2 separate regions of the Homo sapiens genome follow, and region 2 is linked to region 1. Evidence: fine-mapped expression QTL. A gene starts in region 1. The other region holds a variant in brackets. All regions are shown on one strand. Distances are between the middles of the regions.

Region 1 (2,894 bases):
CCATGGCAACTGCCCCCAAACCCGGCGGCTGACGTCATCTCGCAGCTGCCCAAGCGTATAGGAGGGAGGGGGAGCGGCACAGCCCCGGACCCCCCACCCCGGAACCGGGCGGAGGCTGTCGGGTGGCCTCACTTCCTGCCGGCCCCCTCCCTGGTCAGCTGGTTACATTCCCTGGCCGCGCGCTGGGAGCCAGGCGGCCTCCCCCGGGCCGGGCCTGGCCAGGGCTGAGTCCGAGCGGCGACGCAGAGGGGCCGCCGTGACTCACCCGCGCCCTCCCCGCCCGCTTCTCTCAAGCGGGACCCAGCCCAGAGTCCTGAGTCCTCCCCTCACCCGCACCCAAACCCAGACCCCTGGGGCGGCTCACCTTGCTCCTCTCTCCCGCCGCAGTCACAGGACCCAAGCCGGAGAGGGCGGTGGAAGAAGGAGCTATGCCAGTCCTCCTTGTCCCGCTGGAGTATTTTGTACCTCAGCCCCCAATTATCATTCCTCTCCTCCCTCCAATACCACGGAGGTGGGTGTCGCAGGGGCAAGGACTCAGATCTAATCCTCGCTTCTCCCAAACCAGCTGTGTGACCTTGAGAATACTACTAACCTCTCTGGGCCTGTTTCTGCATCTGCCAGATGGTCATAACCCTCCTCAGATGCTGTGCGTTGGCCGAATGCGGCAGGCCCAGGGCGCGGCCCCGCAGACTGCAGCCAGGGCACAAGTATTGTTACACGAGGCTGCGCACAGTAGGTGCTGGGGCGGCCAGCCTGGACACACGTTAGAACTGGCTGGGGAGGGTCTGTAGGGGAGGCCGGACTCAGGGCTCACCCTGGAGAGGAGGACAAAGGGTGCTGAATCTGGACTGAATCCGACCTCTAGCCCTGGTGAGCAGCCCCTTGCCCAAACCAGTTCTGCAGAGAGCCCAGGCCCGGCTGTTGCAGGAACCTTGCGCCAACCTCCATTTCCAGGGAAAAGCTCCGTTCCCCGACAAGGACGATCCTCTCCGGCTTCGGCTACGCCAGGTTTGGGCGGAGAGCCCGGCTCCAGCCCAGGCTCGGTCACCTCGGGGCCGGCCACAAAGCCGCTTAGGCCGGCCCCTAGAGCTAGGAGGATTAGCTCAGCTCCTAGGCCGGCCCGCACCCTTCGTCGCCCCCTCCCCATTTCCAGCCCAGCCTCCCCTGCGGCGAAGGCAGCAAGGGCTCCCAGGGAGCGCGCGTGCCAGGGCCCAGGCTGGCGCCTTGAGCCCGCTCTCTGGCCTGGCCCATCCCAGCGCCCCGGGGCACCGGCCGCCAGGGCCTTGCCGTGGGAGGAAGGCAGCAGCGCCAGGCTCTGCAGGCCCGGAGGCGGCGGCTTTTGTGGGAGAAGCTGCGTTCTCCACGCCCGGGGGGAGGGGAGGAAAGACAAGGCGCGGCCGGGGTCCGGGAGATGGGGTGAGGCGGGACAGAGCCGCAGATCCCGGACCCACCGGGCGGCGCCGGCGGGGGGGCACCAGAACCTCCGCGCCTGCTCCCCGCCCGGCCTGCAGCCCCGGAAACGGCGCGGGACACTCACATGGCTGCGCTGGGCTGCGCGGACCTCGCGCTGTCCTTGCGCTCGGAGGTGCCCGGCCTGGTCGCGCCGCAGCTGCCGCTGTCGCCGCCGCAGGCGCCGGCCCCTCCCTCCGCCCGCCGCCCCGCCGCCCCTCCCCTGGCCCGCCGGGCCCCACCCCCTGCGCTCCCGCGGCTCCCGCACCCCTAGAGGCGCCCACGGCTCGCTCCGCCCTCTCGGATAACGGGGCAGGCCGGTGGCCCACGCAGCCCACCAGCTTGCAGGGAGGGCAGACCCTGGGGGATGTGAGGGAGGCTTTCTCACGCAGACCCTAAAACGGTGAGCGCCAGGGAGCCCCGCCTGCTTGTCCCCTCCCCAGATCCCTCGGGCTCTGGAGACCTTGCGGGCCCCCTGTCCGTGACCACCTGAAACAGGTCCTGGAGCTGCTACTGCTGGCTTAGGCTGGTTGGTGGAAAGGATCCAGGGCTGTTGTGAAGGCCTTGGGGAGTCCAGAAGCCGCCTGGCACCTTCTGGGTCCAGACGCTGCCCTTCAGCCCTGCCATTTCAGCCAGCCTCAGCGTCGCTGTAGAGGCAGGCCGCCCTTTCTGCCACTGTCTGGCTGGTAAGTCCAGGCTCATAGCCGGGTCATGCATTCCCCACTCATTGGGTACTGGTTTTCGGGCAGTCTTGGGGTGGGGACGCTGGCAGGGTCCGGGTACAGGGCCATGTGTTGGGCAACCCAGTCCTTTCCAAAGCCGGGGCTAGAATGCTGGCCCTCCACACAGTCGGTAAAGGTGGGGCTGAGAGTCGACCCCATGTTGGGGTCAAAGGGCCAGTTCCACTCCCCCGCTCCTCCCATCAATCAGACACCCCTGGCCCTTCCAACCTGGACACCCCTGAGGCTTCTCCAGGCCTTGCACTCCCGCAGCCCTCATGTATGTCAGACCTACCCAGGAATGGTTTCAGGGACAGTAAGAGGTCCCTGAATATCTGTACCCCGCCCCCACCAGTCCTGAGGGCTGTTTTTTTGTGTGTTTTGCTTGTTTGCTTGGTTTTGTTTGGTCGGGTTTTTTTTTTTTTTTTTTGAGACAGAGTGTCACTGTCGCCCAGGCTGGAATGCAGTGCAAGCTCCACCTCCCAGGTTCATGCCATTCTCCTGCCTCAGCCTCCCGAGTAGCTGGGACTACAGGCGCCCACACCACGCCCGGCTAATTTTTTGTATTTTTGGTAGAGATGGGGTTTCACCATGTTAGCCAGGATGGTCTCGATCTCCTGACCTCGTGATCTGCCCGCCTTGGCCTCCCAAAGTGCTGGGATTACAGGCATGAGCCACCGCGCCCAGCCTGTTTGGTCGGTTTTTTAGAGATGGGCTTTCTTCATG
Region 2 (2,894 bases), 320 kb after region 1:
TTTGGGAGGCCGAGGTGGGCAGATCACCTGAGGTTGGGAGTTCGAGACCAGCCTGACTAACATGGAGAAACCCCTTCTCTACAAAAAATACAAAATTAGCCGGGCGTGGTGGCGCATGCCTGTAATCCCAGCTACTCAGGAGGCTAAGGCAGGAGAATCACTTGAACCCGGGAGGCAGAGGGTATGGTGAGCCAAGATGGTGCCATTGCACTCCAGCCTGAGCAACAAGAGCAAAACTTCATCTCAAAAAAACAAACAAAAAACAAAACAAACAAAAAAGTATTGGAGACAGGTGCGGTGGCTCATGCCTGTAATCCCAGCACTTTGGGAGGCCGAGGTGGGTGGATCACTTGAGGTCAGGAGTTAGAGACCAGCCTGACTAACATGGTGAAACCCTGTCTCTACTAAATACAAAAAATTTAGCCAGGCATGGTGGCGCATGCCTGTAATCCCAGCTACTTGGGAGGCTAAGGCAGGAGAATTGCTTGAACCTGGGAGGCAGAGGTTGCAGTGAGCCAAGATCACACCATTGCACTCCAGCCTGGGCAATAAGAGTGAAACTCCATCTCAAAAAAAAAAAAGAAGAAAAAGAAAAAGAAAAAAAAGATATTGGAGGTAGCACTGGTGAGAGAAGAGGTGAATGGCAGGGGGAAGTCTGAGGGGCAGTGGCTTCAGCCTATCCTGTGAGCTCCACAGACTTATAGGCTCTTCTTTCCTCACGGGCTTGGGGTCTGTGATCACAGCCTCTGCCCCTGTGACCAAACCTCCAGCTGGGCCCAATACTCCTCGATGCTTCTGCCCCCAGGGGCTCTGGCCTGTCTATGGCCCCCACCCTACCCATGGTTCTGAGTTAGATTTTTAATTTGTTTTTTGAGATGGAGTCTCATTCTGTCGCTCAGGCTGGAGTGCAGTGGTGCAATCTCAGCTCGGTGCAACCTCCGCCTCCCGGGTTCAAGCGATTCTCCTGCCTCAGCCTCCCGAATAGCTGGGATTACAGGTGTGCTCGACCACACCCAGCTAATTGTTATATTTTTAGTAGAGACGGGGTTTCACCATATTGCCCAGGCTGGTCTTGAACTCCTGACCTCAGGTGATCGGACTGCCTCAGCCTCCCACAGTGCTGGGATTACAGGCGTGAGCCAAGCCCGGCCCTGAGTTAGGTTTTAATCAGAAACCGGGTCTTCCTGCACAGAAGTGGCTCTTGTTGGAATCAGCCCACATCCTCCTACCAGCCTGGGGATCCTGACCCTGCCCTTCTGCCTCTCTCCCTTCATGCCTCTCACCAGAGAACTCCAAGTCCTACAAAGGACACCAGGCAGGGCCATGCAAGCTTGAGGACTGAGGTCAGATTGTCAGGAGCCTTCTGGAGATGGCTCCCAGACTACGCCCCTGTTAACGCTGTCCAGGAAGGCATCCATTTGGGG[C/G]AGTGCCTCCTACCCTGCCAGTTCTCCTGCAGCAGGCCGGCAGCTCAGCCTCTCCCTTGGCAGGTGCCCCCAGACCACAGGCCAACCCTCCCTGCAGGCCCAGCATGGAGGGAGGCTGAGGACTCACCTTGGAGAAAGGCTGCAGTCCCAGCCTCTCCCCACCCCCTTCAGAACACCAGCCCCTCAACCGTAGCTGTCAAAGTTTGTGGCCTGGCCTGATGCCCCATCTTATCCACCAGCTAAGTTTGAAGGCAGAAGGGGAAGACTGTCACTGTCACAGGCTCAGCCCGCAAGGTACAGAGCTGGCTCAACATATCCCAAGAGCCAAGCAGACTTTATTTCTGCAGCAATCTCTGCTGGTCAGGGTGCCTGCACTCCTCTACCCACTGCCCTTCATGGCTGCTGCAGTGGCCGCAGCTGTGGCCCATGGCCAGCCACACTGTCAAGGTTCAGCGATGCTGCAGTCATAGCAGAAGTTGAAGTTGGTGGGGGGTGGGGGCACAGGGGGTGGCCGCTCGGGGATGGGCACGTTCTCCAGCTCCAGCAGACGCAGCTTGGTCTCCATGGTCAGCAGCTGCTCCAGGTCCAGCCGTGTCTGCTCGCTGCCCATGGGACTGCCCAGCAAGGCACTGAGCCCATCTGTCCACAGGTAGAACTGGGGGTGGCACAGAGCCGTGAGGGTCTGCCCATCTGCCTCCCCTGCCCACCTGCCGACCTCAGCCTGGCGGACACTCACCTCCCGCTTGGAGGGGGCAATGAAGTTGAGGTACGCTTCCTCCTCCCCACGGTCATAGCTGATTGAGAAGGCCAACTCATAGAGGTCCTGGGGAAGCAAGGGAGCGGGGACACTGAGCAGGGGACAGGGTAGGCGGGGGCGGGTGGGAAGGAGCCCCTGGCCCGCTGTACTCACCTTGTTCTGCTTCCCGGAGCCCTTCTCCCGGACATGGGGGCAGTCCTTGCCTGTCAGGAGTGCCCTCATGTCGGCCACAGGGACTGCAGGAAGAAGGCTGGGCTGAGCACTGCAGCCCTGGCAGCCCCGGGGCCCAGGGCGGTCTGGGGAGAGCAGGTATCTGGCCCCCGCCCCTGCCCGCCTTACGTTGCTCGGGCAGACTCTCCAGGGTAGGCGGGCTGGCGCCCTCCTCCATGTCTCCGTACTGCAGCAGCTTGTGGTTGGGGGACAGGCAGCAGAACCACAGCTTATCTGCGTGGAGAAAGGGAAGAGGGCCAGAGTGCTGAGAGGTCCTGACACCAAGCCAGCCGCCCTCTGCCTGCCCTCTGCCTGCCCTCTGCCCCCTGCCCATGCCCATTCAGAGACCCTGGCGCCGCCGGCTGCTGATCTTGCGGAAGAGCGTCCCCTCACAGAGGCGGAGCAAGCGCTGCTGGCGGATCAGGCCCATGAGCTCTGGCTTCAGCTTCTCCCGCAGCTCCCTGATAGAGGGGTGTCACTGAGCACATCTGACCTGGGGAGTA

The links. PIP is the estimated chance that this variant, and not a neighbour inherited with it, causes the effect. A credible set is the group of variants that fine-mapping cannot tell apart.
Region 2: its variant is the best candidate, but not a certain one, in a credible set for the expression of RIPOR1 in whole blood (INTERVAL, PIP 0.54).

Annotation. Positions count from the first base shown.
Region 1 is chr16:67,527,558-67,530,451 of GRCh38, reverse strand. It overlaps RIPOR1 (RHO family interacting cell polarization regulator 1), which reads right to left and starts at 1,623. Exons shown (of 22, transcript NM_024519.4): 1 at 1,538-1,623. LOC100505942 (a long non-coding RNA gene) reads left to right here and starts at 1,707. Exons shown (of 2, transcript NR_104656.1): 1 at 1,707-2,135. RefSeq lists silencers at 17-296, 1,297-1,526, 1,557-1,666.
Region 2 is chr16:67,202,850-67,205,743 of GRCh38, reverse strand. ELMO3 (engulfment and cell motility 3) reads right to left here. Exons shown (of 20, transcript NM_024712.5): 16 at 2,740-2,852; 17 at 2,521-2,625; 18 at 2,335-2,417; 19 at 2,161-2,247; 20 at 1,740-2,079. The coding sequence ends at 1,867. Among named protein-coding and RNA genes, the nearest start is that of MIR328, 1.9 kb to the right of the region's middle. The variant C/G (reference allele first, on the strand shown) is at 1,425.